Homo sapiens: one gene and its partners. The protein of the gene in region 1 interacts with the protein of each later gene in a pairwise test. Each region holds a gene or a part of one and is shown on either strand. Other genes may lie near its edges. The genes, in order: LRIG3, LMO7 and LIMCH1.

Region 1 (8,979 bases):
AGACGGTGACATGGGAAATGAGTAAAATACAAAATAGCATATATTAATTTGCAGTTGAGATAACACTGTTTGTTTTCAATTCAAATAATATCACACAGTTGGCCAACTTGAGAAAAACAGATGGGTGGCTATCTTTATTTTTCTAAATATTTTCTGAAAGTTAAGACATGTTCATAGCAGGGGTTGTGTAAAGTAATCTGCTCTCTAAGTGAAGCTGTGCATTTTGTGTGTTTGTATGTGTGTGTGAGAGAGAGAGAGAGAAAGGAAGGTTATCTATTTCTTCTAAAATGCCTTAATGAATGGGAAAAGATATGGTTAAGTTACAAAGTACAGCAACATTTGCTTTTGGCATCATTATCTGGGGATTTTTGTGCTTTTCTTCCTCCTTTGCCTTATCTCTTTTCCCTTTTCACAGCTCCCACTTACACAAACTGTGTCATTCATTGTAATGATAAAGCAAGTACTGAGTGTTTAGCTTTCATTCTTGTCCTTGGATGTTAAAACTGACAGTTTAGCACCTCTATTACTTTTTATCGGTGAGTCACTGGCCTTGCCAGCACTCAAGATAAGAAAGTCTCACACTTGCCAGAGAAAGAAAAAAGACCAGGAAAACTAAAAAGAGCACTGGGATTGGGTTATGCTCACCACAAAATGGGTGGTAGGAGACCCTTTTGAAAATGGATGAAACTTGCCATTCACTGGGACACAGCTGGAAACGAGAAACTGTCTGGTGTGATCTCAGCAATTTCCAATGGAAAGCTAACTTCCAACTACCTGGTTAACCAGTGTAAACCTCTGAAGGAGTAGAGAAATCCAACATCTTATCTCATTTTATTTCAAATGTTAAAAGACCTCTGGTCAAAATGAATTTGACTTTCTCATACTAAATTCTTATTTGTAAGCCATTATCCACAAAAACTGAGATTCAACATTTGATAGCACTGTGTCCTCTGTGTGTGTGTGTGTGTGTGTGTGTGTGTGTGTATACAAGAAAATGACATCATAAGAGTATCAGAGAATTCAGTGATACATTAATCCTGTTTCTAGGTCACTGTTATTCCCTGATACATTTTGGGAGATTAAACAGAATTTTATGTACCTCTTCTTCCTCTATTACAACTATCTTTGCTGTCACTCTGCCTTCACGCCTATTTTCTATATACTGTAAAGGAATCAGAACAGAGCTGTAAGGGACCTCAAAAGATATTAGTTCTCATCTGCCCAGATGGATACCCAGTGGAAGTTCTCTCTGCCCTGTGGTTCATGAAAGGTTTGAGAAGCCTGTGAAAATATTACATTGATGTAAAGTTTCAGCCAGGCAGGTGGCTCATGCCTGTAATTCCAGCACTTTGGGATGCCGAAACGAGTAGATGGATTTCTTGAGCCCAGGAGTTCGAGACCAGACTGGACAACATGGTTAAACGCCATCTCTCTCTCTCTATATATATATATATCTATATATACATATATTAAAAATACAAAAATTAGACTGGTATGGTGGCATGCGCCTGTGGTCCCAGCTATTCAGGAGGCTGAAGTGGGAGGATCGCCTGAGCCCAGGAAGTTGAGGCTGCAGTGAGCCAATATCCCGCCACTGCATTTCAGCCTAGGTGACAGAGTGAGACCCTGTCTCAAAAAAATAAAAATAAAAAAATTAAGTTTTCATGTAGGACTAGTTCCCCTTTGTATTGACCACATGGTTAAGCACATATCGAAATGTAGAACAGTGATTTTTAATGTGCGCTGTATTCTTTCCATGTCATCCTCTTTTACTCTCTCAATGATCCCATTAAGTTCTGAGTAAGCTTAAGCCACACCCATAAAACGTCCTCTGTTGATTAATTCCCAAATACAATTAAAGTGGAACAAGATCTTACTTGCAAAGTAACCTTTCCAAAAAAATCTCCTAGATATTTGTAATCTCCTCCTCCCATATTTACAACTGTCTTATCTTCATCTAATTGGATAGCATTGTTTTATCGATTACCTTTAAAGAATCTTTCCCAACCTTCAAATTCATTATCATAGAAATAAAGGTATTTTCTTGTTGCACTTGTATTTGGTTTACACAATATTGTGTAACATTAATAATATATATAAACAAGTCTGTAACTACTGTGGATCAGCACCTGACAGGTAGGAGCAAATATGCAAAGGCTGTTCTAAGGAGAGGCTGGTAGTTTCTAGATTTCAGCTGGTCATAGGCATCAGTCAGGTTGTACAGAGAGAACAGAGTGACTGCTAATCCAGTAACTGATAAATGGAAGCCAGCCAGATAAGATCGTTTTTTATTGTATTCCCAATTTACAGACTGAGAAACTGGGGTACTGAAAACTTAGGTAATTTAACTTCACAATAGCTGGTAAAACCCTTAAAGGCGATAAGGAATACATGGTTATCGGAAAATTCTGTAGTATTACCTGGGGGTTAGAGTGAAAATGGTCTATTACATTCCAGTCAATACTGATGTGCTGGAAGTATACTGGAGGTATAGATAGTTAAACCTGACTCAGGGAAGTGTTTGCCAAAGAAGGAATGCCATCAACCAGGCAGAAGAAGGAGCAGAGAATGATTTGGACAGAAGAACCATTTGCAAGAGGGCTGAAGGCAAGAGTACAGCTGGGAAGAGAATTGCAAGTAGCTCCTAGAGTAGGAGAAAAATGATGAAAGACAATGAATTAAAGAGATAAATAGAGGCTCAATGCCAAAACAAACAAACAAAACTGTATAAGTCACTCTAAAGAATTTGAACCTTATTCTCAAGACACTAGGAACCCAAGAAAAGAACTGGTCAGTTGAGTCACAGGCTCAGATTTGACCTTCAGAGATATCACTTAACTGCCCTGAGGAGAAAGCAGTGGAATGCCTGATAGGTGGCAAGAGCTGCTGGTGGTCTGGATTTGCATAATTTCTACAGAGAGAAGATACATTTAGGAGCTAGCTTTAACATGACTTGCTAATTGATTGACTCTGGTGGTGGTGGTGGTGGTGGTGAGAATGAAGTAATGTTAAGGTGACTTTCAGGTTTCTGGGGCATTCATCTGGATGGAGGGAAGTATCCACTCTTTAAGACAGTGAATTCAGGAGGAAACAAGTCAGTTTCAAGGGTGGTGAAATTTAATTCTAGACATGTTACATTTGAACATCCAATTTTTAATGACCTGTGGGTAATTGCACATATGGATTTCGAGTTTAGGAAAAAGACCTGGGCTGAAATATGGATGTTGTATATGTCAGCATGTAAATGTAAATGGAATTCATGGAAGAAGATGAAATTATACAAGGAGAATAAAGAATGAGAAAAGGAAATGAGCCAAAACTCCCCAAAATGGTAGCACATTTATATCCCTGTCATATGTCTCATGTCTCAAGAGCAAGCCTCCATACTGATGTTACCTTGCTTATGCATAATGGCATGTGTACAATGGAATCTTTCTTCTTTTTAAAAACTTCAATGAATTATACCTAATTTTCCTTGTATGAAATAGATGGGGGGCCGGGTGTGGTGGCTCACGCCTGTAATCCCAACACTTTGGGAGGCCAAAGCGGGCGGATAGCCTGAGGTCAGGAGTTAGAAACCAGCTTGGCCAACATGGTGAAACCCTGTCTCCACTAAAAATACAAAAAAATTAGCCGGGTGTGGTGGTGGGCACCTGTAATCCCAGCTACTTGGGAGGCTGAAGCAGGATAATTGCTTGAACCCAGGGGGTAGAGGTTGCAGCGAGCCGACATCGCATCACTGCACCCCACTCCAGCCTGGGTGACAGACTGGAGTGTCTCCATCTCAAAAATAAAAAAATAAAAAAAATAAATAAAAATAGATGGGGGATACTGAGCTGGAAAATCCTTACTATGACTGTAGTGTGTTTTGTCTACTCCCAAGCAGACAAAATCATAAATTCAAAACCAAGGTGCCATCATTATAGATATTTTCTAATTATAATTATACATCATCCAAAAAGGTAGTAGCGTTGTTGTTAATGGTAGCTGGAAATAAGAAAATGGGATACCATATCTAAAATAGGGTGTGTTAACTTCAAAGTGAGTCTTTTCCTTCCCCCGTAAGTGGGAGTGATTTGCTACAGTGAAAAATCAATGGGCCTTAGAGTCAGGGTTAAAGTCTCAACTCCACAAGCTATCTCCACTCCTCAATCATGAGCAGTTTACGCAACTCCAAGGACAGACAAGCTTGGGCAGACAGCATGCAATAAACAATGTATAGAAGTGAAAACTTACTTTAAGCTTCCAGGGTTTGTTTTTTGGTTTGTTCATGTTTTCTGTCTTGCTTTTATTTTTATTTTTTTTGCAACAAACACATTAGTTACGTTCTCTAGGTCTATTTCCTTACCCAGAGGAGGAAGGCCCCTTAGCACATGATCTCTGCGGTCTCCATTAGTTTCAACATCTTGTGGCGCTGATCACCTGTAAGTTAAGGAACAAACTTCACTGGGAAGTCCTGTAGCCTGAATCCAGCCCCAAACATCCACTCCCCCAGCTGAGGAGGCCGGGAGGTACTTTTACCCTGGTAGCATTCTCAATCAACATGTGTCATTACTCAAAGCGCAAGTGGACCAAGGTGCATATACTAATTTTTTCCTCCAAGGTCTTAGTTTTCATTTTACTTTGAAATGTCACTGTGACTACTTTTATTATTACTATTACCAGGAATCTATGATTGCCATCGAGGTCTATTAGAAGGTCATCTCCCATCCCCCACCCCGCCCAGCTTTATCCAGTGCACGAAGGCTGGCTATTTGTAATTCAATATACACTTTCCAAAACCACGAGTTTTACGTTTTATTATTGTTTTTACTTTTGAAGCCGATGTATGGGGGAACACCCACCAGCATTAACGTTGAAAGAGCTGTTTTCATTGAAACCACTCTTTCATCTGTGGATGGTAGGATAATTTATCAGTGTCTTTAATTTGGAATTGAAAAGTTTCCTGAAAACACTGCTAATTAAACTTTACTTCCCTGAAGTTCTCCTAAATACCTCCAACTCCGAGAACTAGCCCAGTATTTGCTCACTTCCTTTTGCCTTTCAACTCCATTTGATATATGTTTCCCACGACGTAGTGGAGACTTCTGGCTGGAGAGGCTGGAAAATATAACTCTGAATTTCCTACAATCTCAGCTCCACTTTCTCCCGCGCGTAGGCCCCCGGCTGGAGCGGTGTTATTGTCACGTGGCCACGGGGACGCCCGCAGCCGAGTCGGCCAATGGGCGCGCGTCGGCCTCTACCCGCCCGCCTTGCTACTCCGCCGCGCGGGGACTTGGCGCAGTGCCGCGGGGTGGAGGCGAAAAAGTTTCTTTTGCAGACAAGAAGGGGCTTCGGCGAGCCGACGCTGCTCAAGCTGCAACTCTGTTGCAGTTGGCAGTTCTTTTCGGTTTCCCTCCTGCTGTTTGGGGGCATGAAAGGGCTTCGCCGCCGGGAGTAAAAGAAGGAATTGACCGGGCAGCGCGAGGGAGGAGCGCGCACGCGACCGCGAGGGCGGGCGTGCACCCTCGGCTGGAAGTTTGTGCCGGGCCCCGAGCGCGCGCCGGCTGGGAGCTTCGGGTAGAGACCTAGGCCGCTGGACCGCGATGAGCGCGCCGAGCCTCCGTGCGCGCGCCGCGGGGTTGGGGCTGCTGCTGTGCGCGGTGCTGGGGCGCGCTGGCCGGTCAGACAGCGGCGGTCGCGGGGAACTCGGGCAGCCCTCTGGGGTAGCCGCCGAGCGCCCATGCCCCACTACCTGCCGCTGCCTCGGGGACCTGCTGGACTGCAGTCGTAAGCGGCTAGCGCGTCTTCCCGAGCCACTCCCGTCCTGGGTCGCTCGGCTGTAAGTATTCTTCCCGCGGGGGGAGGGGGCCCGGGCCGCTGGAGATTCGAGAAAACAGGAGCCGGCGGGGAATGGGGTTCGGCGTGCAGTCCCCTTTTTGCCGTATAGCTCCTTCTGGCCCAGGCCGCGATCGGCGCTCCGTGGGCGTGGAAAAAGAACTGTCCGGGCCTCAGTTTCCCTCCCACGTGCTTTGCGGGCGGCGCAGGTGGGCTCTTGGCGCGTCCTAACTGGCTGCAGGTAGACCAGGGTTGGGGGCCAGTAACGACGCCAGAGATTGGGGATGAAGTCCTGCGCCCTAAGCTAGCCAAGGGGTTCAAATGCTTGCTCCTGCCAGGCCCAGGGGAGATAAGCGGCAACCTGCACACATCAGGAGTTTGCAGTTCTCGCTGAGTTATGAGTCTGGTTCAGTTTTAGTTTCTAGCTGCGTCAGACTCCTTTTCCTGTTCCCACCCAGTAACTGAAGTCAGGCTTTTCATTTGGGAAGCCCCCTCAACAGAATTCGGTCATTCTCCAAGTTATGGTGGACGTACTTCTGTTGTTCTCCCTCTGCTTGCTTTTTCACATTAGCAGACCGTAAGTTCCCACTCCTCAACCAGATTGTAAAGACTGGTCGGTAGCTATGGAAAGGGCGGAACTCGATTATCCAGAATCAAGGGCGTGATTTCTGTAGCTCCTCAGAACGCCCAGACGGTTTAGGGGAGAGCGCAGGGAGCTCTTATGCAAGTTTTTGGATTTTTAGCTGCGAAGTCTGAAAACCTGAAATCACTGCCAACTGCGTGAAGAACAAGGAAGAAAATGTAATTTAGTTGGAAATGCTGATCTTTTCCAAATGTCATCTCTTTTCTTCCTCAGTCCCAGTTTTAAAATTGGAGTGCTGTAAAAAGTAAACAATCAAAATTTGTATTTTTTAAAGTAGTTGTTCTGTTTAAAATAAAAGTGCACTTCATACGTAATCTTATATTTTGACTTAGCAGAATTGCAATGAAAATTTTAAGTTTTTAAAACAATTCTAGTGAACTATTCCAATGCCCTAATGTGGTAGGAGGTTTGGTCAGGTGTTTAAGAATTTATATTTTAAAATTATTGTGCTAATCTAAATAACTTTTGTGAATGTAGAATTGTTGGCCATCAGAAAGTATATTCCTTGTGTTTTTAATAAGCCTTAGTTTAATAAAGTAGAATTAGTATTGGATTGATATTTAATTTCTTGGGACGTTTTATTTAGTAGTTTTTATTGCAATTGGAAGAGGAGATAAGGTCTTTAACCGAAAGCAGGGAGACTTTCAATTAGTTGTGGCTAATTCTGTTAAATTGCCTCTTGTGGAGGTCATGCTGCCTTATTCATGAGTGAATGGCTCTATTGACAACATATGGAACTGAACATGTAAATGACTGGAGGTGAACACTTAGGAATAATAGAGGGATGAGAAAGAGAAAATGAATACAGTGCTTCCTGGAGTGTATTTAGATATGCTTAGATTATTCACGGCATCTAACTTGTATTCGATAGTTTTTCAATGTCAAGTTGTCTATTGTGATCATGCTAGTGTGCAGTACTTTTTTTCTTTTTTCCTGGATTTAGATGTTTAGAAAAAAAATCTGTGTTGCCCTTGATCAGAAGTTGAGTTGAACCAAAAGGGGTTCGATACCTATTTAAACATTGTCTTAAAAGTAGCTGACCTAATTAGGATTTTGTTTTGCAGATAATTTGGTGGCACACTAAAAACAAATTAGAGTTTATTTGGTTAGCACAGTCTTTAATTACATTTCCACCAGCAGTAAATTGTCTCAATACTAGCCCACATTCCTTAAATGTATGTGAAAATAAGTTCCACTTGTATAAATAAGCACTCAGTCTGTTGTCAGGAACCCTGCTGTGATCACTTATTGGACAGCTCTGTCATTCCTGTACTTCTGTGACTTTTAACCATCTTTGTAGGTGTCACCAAACCATGTGGTCTGGATTCTTTATTGTAAATATTTCTTTTGTTTGTACCTAAAGCTCTAGAGGTCTCCTCTTTCCACTTTTGAAAGGAGCAGAAAAACACGTGGAATTGAGTTTTACTTTCTCTGTTATTTGGTATTTTAGAATAGGTGGTCTAAAAAGCTACTAAAGTTTTTCGTAATTAGAAAAATCGTCTTAAGGAGATGATTTCCGAGTTCAGATATAAATAGAAAAATGCATGTTTTTGTTCCCCATATCTTACCTTCCCTTTCCTTGGGTAATCAAAATAGTAGGAGTTTGTCTTTGGACTGGCTTATGAAAGCACTTTTCAGAAAAAGTTCAGTGTCTATCTTTTGTTTCATTTGTTGAATTTGCAAGTTTAAGAAAAATTACGTGTGTATGTATTTTTTCCACTTTATTTGGTTGTGATTTATTACTATAGGAGTCCCATGTGTGAAAAGTCGAATAGTTTGAGCTGTAAAATAATAATACTGTATCAGTACTCCTTTTAGAAAATAACCTCTAATGCTTTAATGAAAGTGGCTCTTAAAGAGTAACTATGTGAGCGAGACTTTGTCTAAAAAAAAACAACCCAGTAACTACGCCAAGCCTTGCTCACAACTGCCATTAAAGGCAAGCTAGAGTTTATGTCAAGAGTTTGCGCTTAAACAGTTCTCAACCTAAAGAGGAATGCTTGTTAGAATGTTATTTAGCCCAGAGACGGAAAAGTTGCTAAATTGCCAATGAGAACTTCCAGTATTATTAAATTCTCACTGGCATTTCAGAATTATTTGTCTTATGTAGAAATGTTTGAGTTCTCAACAGGACCCAGGCGAAAGTCCCAAAGGTAGTTTCTGCTGGTGTGACTTCTTTAGTGTTGACCTGTTATAAATCTTATGGTCCGGACCACAGTTGGGGGTGGGGTGGGGGTAATAGTCCTTATGGTTTTCACAGCTGTTTTTCTGTATTTTCCAGACTAAAACTTGAATATAGCAGGCTGATTTATGAGTCACTTTGGATCAGTGTCTTAAAACAGCTATAGCCTGGCTTTTTGTTTTTCAGCTTTCCAGATTTGTGCTGAATTAGCAGCTCTGCAGGCCCCAGTGGGATTGCTTAAGAAGCTGTGCTGGATTTGCATTTAAAATTTGACTTGGAAGTCAGATTTCCAAATGCTAAAAGGAAGAAAATGACAGCTTGAACCAAATGTTGCAAA
Region 2 (7,000 bases), on another chromosome or scaffold:
GGTGTGTCTACTCATGCTAATTTTGCAATTCAAAGCAAATGTAGGAAAGCTACCCTTTAAGATCGCTCAACATAATGATATTGGATTATTACATAGTTGGAAAGGCTGTTTGATACATTAATAATGTAGCAGGGCTGGTTTATGATTAAACACTGGTTTAAAACCAAGTAATGGTTTCAAGGCAAAGGCAGAGGAGAAGCTTGATTCTAGCAAGGCTACGCAGTGGCTGATGAAGTGGTGGAAAATACAGCCTGGACTCTAATTTTAGGCCTCTTCTGCAGTACCTTTTAATTTTCTATGCCTAATAGTTGCCTTTGTCTCTCTGTTGTGGGTCATCCGAAAGCCATGTGGTAAACAGACAAAATACTAATGAGATTGAAACTGGGGTATGTAGCACTTTGCATTGGTTGGTCAGTTTTTTAGTCTGTAAGTTAATGTTGCTCTCTAGATTGAGGTTCAAATACAATAGTAATTTTTATGGCTGGAGCAGAACAGGCTAACTTAATTCACCACCTTTCTGCTCACCTGCCCTTCCTGTTATCTCTGGATTGGATTTTTTCAGTATTGCTGTCACCCTGTAAGGGATGCCAACCTGAGCTCATTGCCAAGTCTGGCACTAGAATATGAGTCCTTCCTCACTTCTAATTGGTCTGTTTCTCCACCTGCCCCAAGTTTTATCCTTCGGGGATGTGCTGTTCACCACCTTTTAACTTTTTTGCCTTTGGTGCTAATGGAAGTATTTTTAGTAATTATATATAATTTCAATCAACAGATATTAAGACACTATGGTAAATATTTGTTAAAAATTGTAGTGTTACAAAGCAATTCTTATGCTAGCTGCAGCAGCTAGCATAAGAATTGCTTTGTAATACAATTTTTAACAAAGATTTACCATAGTGATTACAGGTGTGAGCCACCGCACCTGGCCTGGGCTCTGCTATTTAAATCCTGTAGGTCTCAGTTTTTTCCTCTTAATCTCCCCTGGTAGTTGTACCAGTTAAATGGATGCTGATGGTAGAGCAACAAATGCTCCCTAATCCATTGCTTGTGTTTCTCCTTGCACAGAATGCAGTTTTGTCACCTCCATGTTTTCGTATGAATGGAATACTTGTTATTCCTTGTAACCTAGTGAACACCTCTTCATTCTTCCATACTTGAGCTAAAATCAACCTTTATGTGAAGCCTTCCCAAAATCGCCAAACCTCCAGCCCCACCCATTCCTTTCTCTCCTGTCTTACATAAATCTCTCTTTTTGCATTGTGTGGTTCTATTCGTTTTTCTATATTAGTCTATGAGCTAACTGAGGGCAGGAATCGTATCTTATTTATTGCTTGAGTGTTTGGCATGGTGCCTGCTAAATGCTTGTTGAATAAAAGTACAAATAAAGTTATAGCTTTAACAACATTAAAAAATAGGATTTTAAGGACCAGAACTCATTTCTTCTTCCAGCAGAAACTTGCTTCAGTGTCTTAAGCTTTATTGGTTGCAGTTGTTTGGTTGGAACCTGCTACAGGATGTGTCTTCATCTGCATGCCAGTGTGTACTTGTTTATTTACTTAGCATTTCCTCTTCTGCCTCAACCCTCTTCCCGAGTCACCTTACTCTACTGCCGTCCACTTGATGATTTCCCTCATGGGGACTTACATTTAGTCATCTCAAAAATACCTACTATGTGCCTACTGTGTGCCAGAAACTTGACGGGTTTATAGATTCAGTCACCAAATTCTTAGCCCTTACCTGGACCTTCAAAGAGAGGCAGCCTCCATGAAAAGCAGATGTGCAGACAAACCCAGCAGTGCCATCAGGTACTGAAGTTCATCCGGTGCATCGTGATGGCATTGAGGAGGCAGCCTGAGTCCACCTGGTCAGTCAGGGCAAGCACACAGAGAAGGCAGCATTTGAGCCGAGGCTGCAGTGGGGTTAACCCATCTGCCCACTAGGCTGGAACATTTTGGCCTTTTTTAACTTGTCGTGTGTGAAATCTTGAAGTTGCAGACAGCATAGCTTCCAGAAGTTGCTCAGAGTAATTTATTCTTACTGAAGTACCTTACTGAGGTAACGTTTTACCTGCAGTGAAATGCACTGATTTTAAGTATACCATTGTAGGAGTTTTGTCAGACCTATATGCCCAAGTCACCAGAACCCAATCAAGATACAGAATGCTTTTTATCACTCAAGAGAGTTCCTTCCAGAGAGCACATTAATCTCCATTTCTTTGGTAAGCATCCACTCTTTGATTTCTAGTACTATGGATTTCTCAAGGTAGGTTTGAATGGCCAAGAAATGTCTTAATGCCTATTTGTTTCTTTTTTCCTCTCACTTTTTCTTTTACTTTTGTTTTCTGAGACAGGAACTCACTCTGTTGCCCAGGCTGGAGTGCAGTGCTGTGATCTTGGCTCACTGCAACCTTCGCCTCCTGGATTTAAGTGATTCTCCTGTCTCAGCCTCCCGAGTAGCTGGGAGTGTACCACCATGCCTGGCTAACTTTTGTATTTCTTTTTTTTTTTTTTGGTAGAGACAGGGTTTCACTGTATTGCTCAGGCTGGTCTCAAACTCCTGGCCTCAAGTGATCTGCCAGCCTTGGCCTCCTAAAGTGCTGGGATTACAGGGCGTGAGCCACCACACCCGGCCCCATTTTTTTCTTTATGCAGTGTTTTATAATTTCTTGAACACAGCATCTTTATATGGGAAATAAGAAAGGATCCTAGAAAAGAGAGGGGTGGCAAGAGATGAGGGAATTAATGAAGTCCTCTTGGGAAGGAACTGATTTACACAAATAGGAACCAGGGCAGGAATGCCGTTAGAATAGCCTGACTCCAGGAAGTGTAAACAGATATGTCAAAGTATTTCCTGAGGAACTGGGAGGGTTCCAGTGCAGTGTCAATCATTCTGGATTCTTCCAACGTACTGATGCACTGAAAGCTAGAAATGGACTTCTTTCATAAAGTGAGGAAAAATACAAAGAACTTGTACCTTTAGTAAAACAGGGTGTCAGCCAGACATGGTGGCTCATGCCTGTAATCCCAGCACTTTGGGAGGCTAAGGAGGGAGGATGGCTTGAGGCCAGGAATTTAAGACCAGCCTAGTCAACATAGCAAGACCCCATCTCTACCAAAAAAAAAAAAAAAAAAAAAAAGGTGGCACACACCTGCATTCTTGGCTGCTTGGGAGGCTGAGGTGGGAGGATCGCCTGAGTCTGGGCAGTTGAGGTTGTGGTGAGCCGTAACTGTGCCACTGCACTCCAGCCTGGGTGACAGAGTAAGACTCTATCTTTAAAAAGTAAATAAATAAATAAATAAATAGAGTATTCTTGAACCAGTTAGAGAAGTGGACCCACTGGGTGAAAAAAACGGTTCTTGATACACATTATAAAGATACCCTCTAAAACCTTTGTGGCAGTTTGCAGAATGAGCAGGGGTTGAGGGCACCATTTTCTCCACATTCTGGCCCAAATTAGAAATTGTTATTTGTATTTTCCCTCTAAATGAACAGATGAAAGACATGTTGTCCTATTTTTTCTCAGATTATTAGTGATATTAAACATTTATGTAACAAATGACCCATTGGGTTTCCTCCAGTGAGGAAGGATGAAGCTGAGAAAAGGAGGGTTCTATTTCCTCTTAAGCCACAAAAGGTTCAATGAAGTCACAATTGGCCCTTGCGAAGAAGCCTTGAAACCTTGGTGTTTCTTAAGCCATTTGTAAAGCACAAATCCTTAAAACTTCTCCTAGGCTTAGAGAAAGAGGAATGGTGTCCTGGATTGGACCCCAGGGAGTATGCCGATTTATTCAATCTGTGTTGGTTCTTGTCTTTCGGTGCATTGCTCTAGCTCTCTTTCTCTCTGGATGCCGAGAGTGCTTTGGGTAGTGAGGGACTGCTGTTGAGACTAAACACTCCTTCACCTTCCCTCTTCCTGTTAAGACTGGTTCTCAACATACCAGCATTTGAGTTATAGAAACACACTAGCTTTGTGAATGCTAGTTAAGAAAAGCAAAGTGACATCAACATATTTGCCCAATCCTTTTAGTTTGGAAGAAATACACCTTGCAGGTGAACTCGTTCTTCTAGTTAGCATCTGCTGATTGAGTTGTTTATGTTGTTCCTGTTCCCCAGAGTTCCTGACAGAATGTTCCCAAATACTTGTTGAATGAATGAATGTTTTGTGTCCAATAAAAAGGTTGGCCTATTTAATTGATGTTTCCAGATCTCCTTAAGCCTGTTAACTATCAAAAATGTGTTAGAGCCTGAGGAAATGAGGAATTATGCATACCTGTACTTAACTCTTTAGTTTCAGAAGGTATTAAATAATTATTGGTTGTATATCTTTGAAAACATGTTTGATGTAGTCAAAGCTCTTAATAGGGATAATAGCTGTCATATATGCACAACTTTGAAACAGAGGTTTAACACATTCAATCTGTGGCTTTGCTTAAAGAGATGGACAATAGCAAGTTCTACTCTGGTGAATTACAGCACAGTCCCATGAACAGCCTTTCCAAAGATTATGAAATACCCCAGTAGTATGCTCAAAGACTGGTTCTCATTACTGGGTACAGAATGCTCAGTTTGGTGCTTGAGTGCATTTTTATGTTGGTATACAGCACCTGACCCTCTGTCTGTCTTCAAGCATAATGGGGATTGTCATGTAGGAGAGATTAGGAAATTTTTGTATGGATTCAGAGGGCAGAACTGGTAATAACTGGTCACAGTGAGACTTTTGACTCAGTATTCTGAAGATCTTTCTATGAATATAGCAGTGCCCTACACTACATGAGCTGACTTGAATAGCGAGTTACCTGCTAGTGAAGTGTTTTTTTTTTAAGAGAAGCTGAAAAAATGACAATAAAAGCAGCTAGTATTCTTGAATTTCTACCACATGCATGACATGTGGCAAGTGCATTATACCCACATATCTTATAATGGACTATTCTTACTGAGGATGTTCTTTTCCAATGAGGGAAAAGAGGGGTGAGAGGTAAAATAATTTACTCAAGGAAACACTAGAAGTAGTAAATGCTGGCTGAGGATCCGAATGCCCACAGCCTGCCATCTTAGTCATTATACTCTGCTGCCTGGGAGTGGCGCTGGCCAGGTAGTTCATCATTGTTAAGGAATTAAGAATCAGAAAAGAATGGGCTCTCCGTCCTTGTTCCACCTAAAGCTGTAAGATTAGCTATTTTTTGTACATGACAAATCCTATACAACTTCCGCTCACCAGCACAAGTTATTTCTTGTGATGTTAGTGCCGTATTAGTACATGATCATCAAATATATGTAAGTTACAGAATTGCCAACAGATATATTTTTTTCTTTTTTAGAGACAGGGTCTTGCTCTGTTGCCCAGGCTGGAGTGCAGTGGTATGATCATAGCTCACTGCAGCCTTGAACTCCCGTGCTCAAGCTGTCTTCCTGCCTCAGCCTCTGGAACAGCTGGGAGACTATAGGCACACACCACCACACCCAGATAATTTAAAAATTTTGTTGTAGGGACAAGGTCTCGCTTTGTTTCCTAAGCTGGCCTTGAACTCCTGGCTTCAAGCGATCCTCCCACCTTGGCCTCCCAACCTGTTGGGATTACAGGTGTGAGCCACCATGCCCAGCCAGATGGACACTGTTGAGCAATTGCCGACTTTAGGTTTATATATTTGAATGTATGTTAGTGATTGTTAATGTTCAATAAACCATTTAAAGTGTTAAAAAAGGAAACATTTTAATATAACATTGAGTTATACTTTGAGCTAGAATAGGAAATAGATATCTAAGTAGTTTCTTCTATAATTTATAAAAGTATCATCTTCTCTCATGTGACCTACATTTCTGTAGTTCGTGCATACCAGAAATTGTACAGATGGTTATTGTATAGTGCTTCAAAAATACATGTCATGTTTTTGATTAGGATACTTTTTAGTTAGTGTTTTAGGCTTGTTAGTACCAAAGCTGGGACCCTGATAAAATTTTTTTGCCTCCTTGACTAGATTGAAATTTGATCTAGATGTGTGAACAGGGAAAGAAATATCTGAGTTATTTTGTTATACCACCATTTCATAACATTCAAAGGAAGGGAGGTCATTGCCAGTCTCATTATAAACTTTCATTCTGGCTTGACCCAGAAGTTTGAGGCTGCGGTGAGCTATGATTGTACCACTGCACTCTAGCCTGTATGACAGAGCGAGACCCTATCTCAAAAATAAATAAATAAATAAAATTAAATAAATAAAGGAAGTTCATTGTGGAATTAGTTTTTCTCATGAGATTTAATGTTTTAATGTTTTTCATTTTACATGAAGAAGGGGACAATAAGCAAACGTATTGCCTCTGGACCAGTATCAAATGCATTTGGAATTTACCCTGTGTTATGAAGAAAATATTGTCAGTCTATCAAAAGCATCAGATAGAGTTGGTGATGACTTCCTTCTCAAACCCTTCATTGCCCTCTAGGTTTTTCTTCCATTTCACTTGGTGTTTCTAATTTTTCTGTGCTCAGTCCTCCTAATTATTGTTCATCAGTGAATGTTAGAACATCCAAGGACTCATCTTCCATGTCTTCTTTTCTTTGCCTACAGTATCTTTCTAGCAGATGTTATCAAGTTCATATATCTTCTCCACGCTGATTGCTTCCATATTTACATTCCTGACCCTGACCTTGTCCCTAAATTTTAGTAACTACTTGAGATTTCCCACTGTAGGTCTGATAAGCATGTCACGCTCAGTGGGTTCTAAGCAAAACTCTTAGTACTACCCCTTTCCCACCCCTTCCTAATCATCTCCTCATCTCTCCAATGTTTCTATCTTAGCAAATGGCATCATTGTTCAGCCAGTTGCTCAGGCTTCCAAATTTGAAGTCATTATTGACTCTTGTTCTTTTTTAACATCATACCACACATCCAATCTGTGAAGAAATCCAACAGGCTATATCTTCAAATGGATCCAGAATCTGACCACCTCTTGCCACATCCACCATCACCTTTCACCTATGCTGTTGCAGTAGCCTGGACTCCTT
Region 3 (8,280 bases), on another chromosome or scaffold:
AAGAGTTTCAAATGAGAAAGATGAGGTAGAAGGAAACCAAAGAGATGATATGATGTCATCCATAGTGCCCGTCCCGGGCCCAGATGCTGACGCTCCACACGCAATCCCTTCCCCCAGCAGGTCTCGGGCCGCCCTTCTCTGTTGTTCTCCCTCCATTCCTGAATTCATGCTCCTGCCTACTGCTGCTGCTGTGCCCTTTGAACAGTTCTAGCTCACCCTAAAGGAATTGTGACATTTTAGTGGTGGGTGAAGCTACTCCTCTGTAGAGAGTGTATCTGTTGGGAATGCAGTTTTTGGAAGAAAGACACTATTTAAAAAGAAGAACACTAATCTTTTGACAGCCCCACAGAATCAGGCAAGTGAATTAGAAACAGAAAATGAAGTCCAAGCTGGTGTCAGTCTCTGGGAGGCCCTGAAGTGCAGCCTCCTGTTCTAAGCTGGTCACCATATTTTGCCATGACCAATTAATTCCTTTTTTTTTTTTTTTAACAGGAGTATACCGGCTGTAACACAGTCAAGAAATGCTTTGCTTGGAATCATGCACAAAGAAGTAAAATGGGGAGTAGGTTTACTGGAGAAGTGATTCTTTTAAAATGACTCTTGGGATAACACACTCTGAATGGAAAACTTGTGGTATCCTAAGTTGCATGTGAGTATGATGAGTATTTGAGTAATGAGCCACAGTCCTATGTAGTACAGCTAACAACTTAGCTTATAGTCTGACAGATATATACAGAGATTTTCCCACACAGAAAGTAATGCAATACCCCCTGCCATAGTTGATTCAAAAGCCTAAAGTACTATAGACAGGGTCCATAAATACTACTACCTGTTCAGAAACATTAGGGTTCACTGACCTAGAAATTACTCTGAACTAGGCAATTTCTCCAAGGAAGAAATACACAAAAGGAAAAGACTCCCAGGCTTTTCTGAGTTTAGACCTGCATCCTTAGGCAACCAGGATCAGGCTGGTTTCTAGGAAGAAAGTCCTGAAGGCCATCCTTCTCCATGTGATCATGTATAAACTTTTGAAATAGCATAGTTTCTTTCAGATCGTGTAATTTTGCTTCTCTTAAAACAAGTTACTTTGGGGGATATGTAATCAATGTGAAATCTTTTTAATGAAGGGAATTTAGAAAACGATCATCATGAAAAATGGCAAAAGAGAAATAAGAACAGAATTATTAATTGTCCCTGAAAAGCAATGCCACCCCTATGTCTAATTAATTTGGGGTCTTCTAGTTTAATTTTAACAGCATAAGTTAATGTTTACTCTATCAGTTAAGTTCTCACACTGCTAGCAGAACTCAATATTCTGTCTCGTGATCATCTGCAAGAAATCTCTAGCAGAGGTAAGACGTATGCAAATGACAAGTAAAATGGAAGTCCAGGAAGTCCAAGTTCAGGAGAGACTCCGCAGTGGCCTGGATCACAAAACTCTGCTCCTAGAGACTAGGAAACGTGTTACCATGGTGAGAAAATGATTTTGGTCTACTCCCATTTGAATCTCTTTCACAGAGCACTTGGGTACTGCGTGGAAGAATTATATCTTCTCAACTCCTCTGAAAAAAAAAATAATTTTAGTCTTCAAAAGACTAATCATAAAGGAAAAAAATAATGATATCCAGCCTTCTAGGTGGGTTTTAGCTAGCTGGGTCACACAACGCTCAGCTCCCTTGGTGCCGGAAGAAGTTTCCTTTCACACCAAACCTTTCTAGGTCCTGGGGGAAAATATCTTGATAGTTTTTCCCTTCTTGTAACTATAATATAAACCCAAATGCTATAAATTAGAACAGCAGAAACTCAGCCTCTGGTGAGTACAAATGAGGTTGAACAGAGTCCAGCCCGTACCCCGAAAGCAGGGCTGCATCTGTGTAGTGACAGTTTCGGTTAGATTAGTGAAACCAGCATGAGTCTTTCTGGTGAGAGATGGAAGAAAGTGCAATTTTCCCAATGATGTCTTCTACTCCAAAGAAACAAATATCATGTTATTTTGAGTTCACTTTTCTGCAGTACCTGAATTAGCATACATTTTTTAGCTTTGCCATTCAATAGTACTCTGATGCTTTACATTACTTTCAGCTTTTAAATGAATTTTTGTTTCTTTAACTAATAAGAAAAAGGCCCTTTTATATATACATCGCCGGGGATGGAAAGCTAGATTCTGATAGCACCAGTTATTTTCAAATGGCATTAACAAGTCTAATGAGGTCCTAAATAAACAGGGGGGGAAAAGGTATTTTAAAGATTTACTTATTCTTCTATAACACTGGACACCAATAGTGAGACAAGAAAAAGTAATTTCTGGCTCATAAATTGTAATACCTTCCATTATACCAATGATACAGGTTGAATTGTGTCTCCCAAAATTCATATTATTGAAGTCCTAACCCTTACTACTCAGAAAGTGACCTTTGGAAATAGGGCTGCTGCAGATGTGATTAGTTAAGATGAGGTCACAAGGGAGAAGGGTGGACCTACTCAGTATGACTGGTGTTCTTCTAAAAAGGGGAAATTAGGCTGGGTGTGGTAGCTCATGCCTGTAATCCCAGCACTTTTGGGAGGCTGAGGTGGGTGGATCACTTGAGGTCAGGAGCTCAAGACCAGCCTGGCCAACATGGTGAAACCTGTCTCTACTAAAAATACAAAATTAGCTGGGTGCACTTGTGCATGCCTGTAGTCCCAGTTACTTGGGAGGATGAGGCAGGAGAATTGCTTGAAGCCTGGAGGCAGAGGTTGCAGTGAGCCAAGATCGCACCATTACACTCCAGCCTAGGCAAAAAGAGCGAATTTCCATCTCGAAAAATAAAATAAAATAAAATAAAATAGGGAAATCTGAATACAGACACATCCACAGGGAGAACACCAGTGAAGACAAAGGCAGAGAGGGGGATGACACATCCATAAGCCCAGGAACATCAAGATTGCCAGCAGCCACCAGAGGCTAGGAGAGAGACCTGGAACAGATGCTCTCTCATGACCAATGGAGGGAGCCAACCCTGCCAACACCTTGGTTTTGGACTTCTAGCTACCAGGACTGTGAGACAGTTTCTGTTGTTTAAGCCACTGAGTTTGTGGTACTTACAGCAGCCCTAGCAAACTAATACGCCAACATAGAAAGAAATGGTCATTATCATGACCTACTTATTTTTAAAAACAGATTCTTTCACCATGGAATTATCCCAAAGGGAGGCGGGGAAATGTTTGGTTCTTACTGCGAGCTCTTGGGGAACAGAGTTTGGCTTCTTTATGTTGATCTCGATGCTACCGTTGTCTTGTTTCAGCTCCAGTGGAGACCCGTGCACTCTGGCCACACCTTCAAACATCTGGGATTTGGTTAAGGAGTGGGCAGGTGCCACCGTGGGACACTCTCTTTCCTTCTCCTCCTCTCTATGAACCGTCTCTCCATTCACACTGACTTTCCCGTCTACCTATAAAAGCCAGAATGAACAAAAAACATGCTATATATACCCCAATCAAAGACTGTAACAAAACGACACGTTCAGAATTACCTCAAAAGATCATCATTTAATAACCAGAGTCCAATGAAGGAAGAGGTCTCTTAAATGTTCTGATGGGATCTATGAGTTAGGGCTTCTATAAATGCTATCTTTGAGGGCCTCCTTAAAAGGTAGTTGGCCTGCTTGGGCCACTTCACTATAGATTCCATTTCATGTTCACCTCATTTATGGTCTGCTTTTATTTTAAAGTACAGAAAACCGAAGAATCTTAAGTACAAATACATGCCACATATTGGGGTTCCAATACTGTTTCACTTCAGTTCTGATTGCTATTCCACAACCTTGACTGTTTTTCTGGATAGCATATAAATGAGGCGGAACTTACCACAGATCAGGAATATTTTACAGCTTATCCCATGGTGGTAGCAGGGGAAACAGATACTTTTTTTGAAGCTAAGGCAGAGGGCAAGGGATCTGAGACTATGCTCTGTTACAGTGAATCTCTATTTCTAGTTACTTTTATAACCTCCATTTTTTAAAGAAAAAAAGACCATGCACATTAAAATATTTTTGTTTTGCACTCACATCGAGGGGAGGCAGTTGGAGCAAGAAAGGGAAACCAGAGAGGGCGGTTAGCCTGGCTTACTGAAAGGCATCTGGAAATCTCGGTCTTGAAATTTGAGGCAGAAAGTAGAGTGGTTTTGAGAGGGAGCTGTGCAGTTAGGTGACCTGATTGAAACCTGGCTCTACCATTTAACAGGCATGGAATCTTCAACAGGTTTCCTATTCTCTGTGCTCTGATGCAAAATTTAAAGTAACAGTATCTTCCTCATAGTGCTGTTATGGAGATTTTATGGATTATCAAATGTACAGAATTTAGAACAGTACCTGACACATTTTAAGTGCTTAACTATTAGCCATTATTATCATTAGGCCTCTTATTTATGTATTTATTTATTTTTTGAGACGGGGTCTCACTCTGTCACCCAGGCTGGAGTGGAGTGGTGTAATCTCAGCTCACTGCAGCCTCCACCTTCCTGGTTCAAGCAATTCTCATGCCTCAGCCTCCCAAGTAGATGGGATTACAGGCGTATGCCAACATGGCTGGTTAATTTTTGTATTTTTAGTAGAGACAGGGTTTCATCATGTTGTCCAGACTGGTCTCGAACTCCTGGTCTCAAGTGATCTGCCTGCCTCGGCCTCCCAAAGTGCTGGCATTACAGGTGTGAGCCACCTCGCCCAGCCTCATTAGGCCTTTTAAAATCTTTTAAAAGAAATAATGGAAGGCTGGATATTAGTTATAGTTTATTTACCTTAAGCCACTGGTCTTTTTACTCTATTATTTGTTACCCATAAAAAGAAATTTAAATCACAACTCAGCACACACACACACACATAAATATAACTGAAACAGAAGTTGCCCCAAGCAATTTTGCCTTCATTGTGTGACACACTATGTTTTTTTATTATATTCTATTCTAGTTCTTTTTTTTTTATATTGGCTTCAAACCACTAAACTGATTTTATAACCTAGCAACGGGTGGTAACTTTCAGTTTGAAAAACACTGCCTTAAACTATTTCTCTTGATCTTCCTTTATTCTTAATTCTGTTGTACTGGAAAAACAACGGGGCCTGTATTCCCTGCCCTGCCCTCCAAGAAGACACACACACACACACACACACACACACACACACACACACACCCCTACCCCTTAGCTTCTGTCCTGGCATTATTAGCTGGTAACAACGGTCTGATTTGCATGTTACTTTGACCTTTGACCAAAGTTGCTGTCCATGCACTCAGTAATGGAACTGTAGGCCATCAGTAGAAATACTAGCCAGTGAGGCCTACAATGAGGCAGGGGACCCCCACTAGTGAGTGATGAGGAGTAATCTCCAGCTCTAAGAGGGCCTCTGCTCAAATTCTCTAATAACCCCCTCCATGGAAGTGCTTCCTGAGGCCGCCATACCACCTTGCTCCACTTTGCCGCCATGGTGAAGAACAGAGTTTTCTCAGAGCTGAAGTTCTGCCATAAAATCATTTATGCTAATCCTTCTGTTTAAACGATCACTTTGCACTATTTAGATAAAGGAGGGAAAGTGGACATCTAGAATGTTTGGTCAGATGCCTTGGAAATCCAGTTAAATAAATGTATTCTCTATCCTATTCTGGGCCACCTCAACATAGAATCTTCCTTCAGGAAATACCATAGCCATTCATTATCATAGGCCCTAGGTGAAGGAAAGCTTCTGAAACACTTAGGTGGACCACTGAGCACACATGAGCATGTGTGTGTCTATCTGTGTGTGTGTGAGTCCATATGATTAGTAGCTCATCTTCTCAGGAAAAATTCACTTATTTATTTAAGGAGCACTTGCTGAGTGCCTACTCTGTCCTGGGCACCTGTGCCAGGCTCTCAGGATGAAGCCATGAATGACAGAGACATGGCCCCTGCCCTTATAAGGGGACAAACAGCTCAATGTGATCCAGATGAGACAGTCTGGACATTTTTGTTCTATCAAAGCCTAAGATAGAGATTTTTGAGATACATTCAGAGTTATTTCAGCAAAAGTCAGAAAGTGTGGTTTTGTTCTCTTTGAAATACAGCAAGGAAGCTACGTGGCATCACACTGCTCAATCAGTTACGAAAACTTTTCTATCTAATGGTCACATCTCCAAGTGATGCATTCCACCTCTGTTTATTACAAACTCATTGAGTGCAAGGACAAGGGGAACTGATTTTTCTTTACAAGTCAAAAGAACTTAAGACAAAGGATGAGTGCTTCCTCCTGATATAAGAGAAAGTACTTGAATTTGAGGAAGCGAAAAGATGTTTGGTTTCCACAAGTTCTTCAGTCTGGAACACTATTTTACACACTCATTAGCAAAACAACCCAGTTTCTTTCCACTTGTTTAAAAAACCTGTCTCATTTGAGGACCAAGTATGTCCCATGTTCCCATGTGTTCCTTGTATTTTTATCAATTGTAAAATCTTTTTGGATGCTACAATGTCAAATGGATGCTGAATGCCAATTTCTTCCTAAAAGAGAGGTAGCTGCATATACTTCTATTTGAACCAAAAGCAAATAAAATTTTGTTTTGAGGAGTCTGCCATACCTCCTGATACCTAGAAATACTAGGGTATTACTAAATTAGGGTTTTTACCACTAGTACAGAGAAATCATGCCATTATATCAAACTAGAAAATAGACCTTGCTCATGGAGACGACTCCACTATCAGTCTTATAGGAGTCCATCTGTATTAACAACAGCAATTGAGGGAAACAGCTGTCCCTGAAGCATTTACAAACCAAATCTCCAGAGACCTATGACTTTCACAGCTGTAAATGTCAACACATTTTTCTTTTGTATGGTAAAAAGAATGACATTTTCTTGAGTCATGATGCTTCTTTCCATCCACTCCCTGGAGTTCAGCTTTGGTTCTACTCTTAAGGAACTTGTCCTACCTTAAAGGTCTTCAGAACATCTTGAGAATTTTTGGGCTGGGAGTAAGGCTTGGGTGTCAGCATAGGCACTGCTTTGGGAGTGACAGTTTTGCTTGGAGACCCACTGCCTGCTGACATGCTGGTATCCAGAACACTGGCACGAGCAATGGTGGTTTCAACAGTGGCAGTGAATTTGGGTGGAGGCAGTGACTGTTGCCGCAGGTATTTCATGGGATTGGGGTCATTCAGGAAGGAGGATAAATTTGGCTCTGTTGAATGGCTTCTTTCCAGAATTTTTGGCATCTCCAAGCGTTCGAGAACAGCCTCACTGATGGTGAACCTCTCAATGTACTGTTGAAGGATCCCCTCTGCCTCCTCCTGGGACCGAGCGTTCTTATATGCTTCATGCAGCTCTCTCTCTCTCCGCTCTCTAAAGGACATGGGAGAAGCAATAACAAAGTCAACTAATGAAAATTGCAAAGAAGACCTTGGTAGAAACGAAGGTAGCACTGAAGAGATAGTACAGGGAATATAAAATGTTACTATCAGAACCTTTGTGACAGCCAATAATTTTTAGAAAAAAAAAACACCTAGATAATATTGTACATTAAAAACGACAACAGAAAGAACTCACTTTTCTTGAACAATTTCTCTGTAGGTTTTGATGCTTTTCCTTCGTTCACTTGTCCCATCTTCTCCAGCCAGTAACTTCTCCATTTTTTTCCTTTCTTCCTCTTTCTTGATTAAGTCCTGAGAAACACTTCTTCTACGACTCTTCCAACGAGCCAGGTCCTGGCAGGGAAAGAAAGATATAATATTCTTCTTCAGACTTGTGCATAATTCCATTTCTATTCTTCAGAGTTTAGTCATTTCTACTCTTTAGAGAACTGACTATGGGCCCAGGCACTATAACATCGTGTGCATTCCCACACAATCCAATGTAAGTCTGGTTGGAACTGGAATGCCTCAAAGGCAGAAACATCCAGATATTATCTACAGTATCCATAGCAGGGCTGCACATTTATTTAAATATGGCAGTGTGAAATATGCAATCACATTTCATGTCAGTTGCCAAATTTCAGAGAATTGCCTCACAAGGTAACTGTAAGAAACTTCATTCCTTCCTATTTATAACCTCTGCATTGTGAACAGATTTGCTGACAATAGAATAGTAGGGATTCATTTACAGTTTCCACATGGAAGGCAGTCAAGGCAGAAAAAAAACTGTTTTGGAGTCTTTAGATCTGGTGATTCTATATGTATTAATTCATCTGATCCTTACAACAACCTCACCACAATCCTACAGGTAGTTATAGCATAATGATGAAGAGTGAGGATTCTGGAGGCAGATGGTTGGGGTTGCAGCTGTGG

Evidence for each region.
Region 2: the proteins of LRIG3 (region 1) and LMO7 interact in binary tests that used the Homo sapiens proteins (3 or more experiments, as listed by UniProt).
Region 3: the proteins of LRIG3 (region 1) and LIMCH1 interact in binary tests that used the Homo sapiens proteins (3 or more experiments, as listed by UniProt).

What each region holds. Positions count from the first base shown.
Region 1 is NC_000012.12:58,916,842-58,925,820, reverse strand, and holds the start of LRIG3 (leucine-rich repeats and immunoglobulin-like domains protein 3 isoform 2 precursor), read left to right. Parts: upstream 1-5,316; 5' UTR 5,317-5,585; coding exon 5,586-5,821; intron 5,822-6,315; exon of another isoform or gene 6,316-6,338; coding exon of another isoform or gene 6,339-6,394; intron 6,395-8,979. UniProt on the Homo sapiens protein: May play a role in craniofacial and inner ear morphogenesis during embryonic development. May act within the otic vesicle epithelium to control formation of the lateral semicircular canal in the inner ear, possibly by restricting the expression of NTN1.
Region 2 is NC_000013.11:75,639,330-75,646,329, forward strand, and holds part of LMO7 (LIM domain only protein 7), read left to right. Parts: intron 1-7,000.
Region 3 is NC_000004.12:41,645,544-41,653,823, reverse strand, and holds part of LIMCH1 (LIM and calponin homology domains-containing protein 1), read right to left. Parts: intron 7,702-8,280; coding exon 7,544-7,701; intron 7,340-7,543; coding exon 6,931-7,339; intron 3,432-6,930; coding exon 3,216-3,431; intron 1-3,215.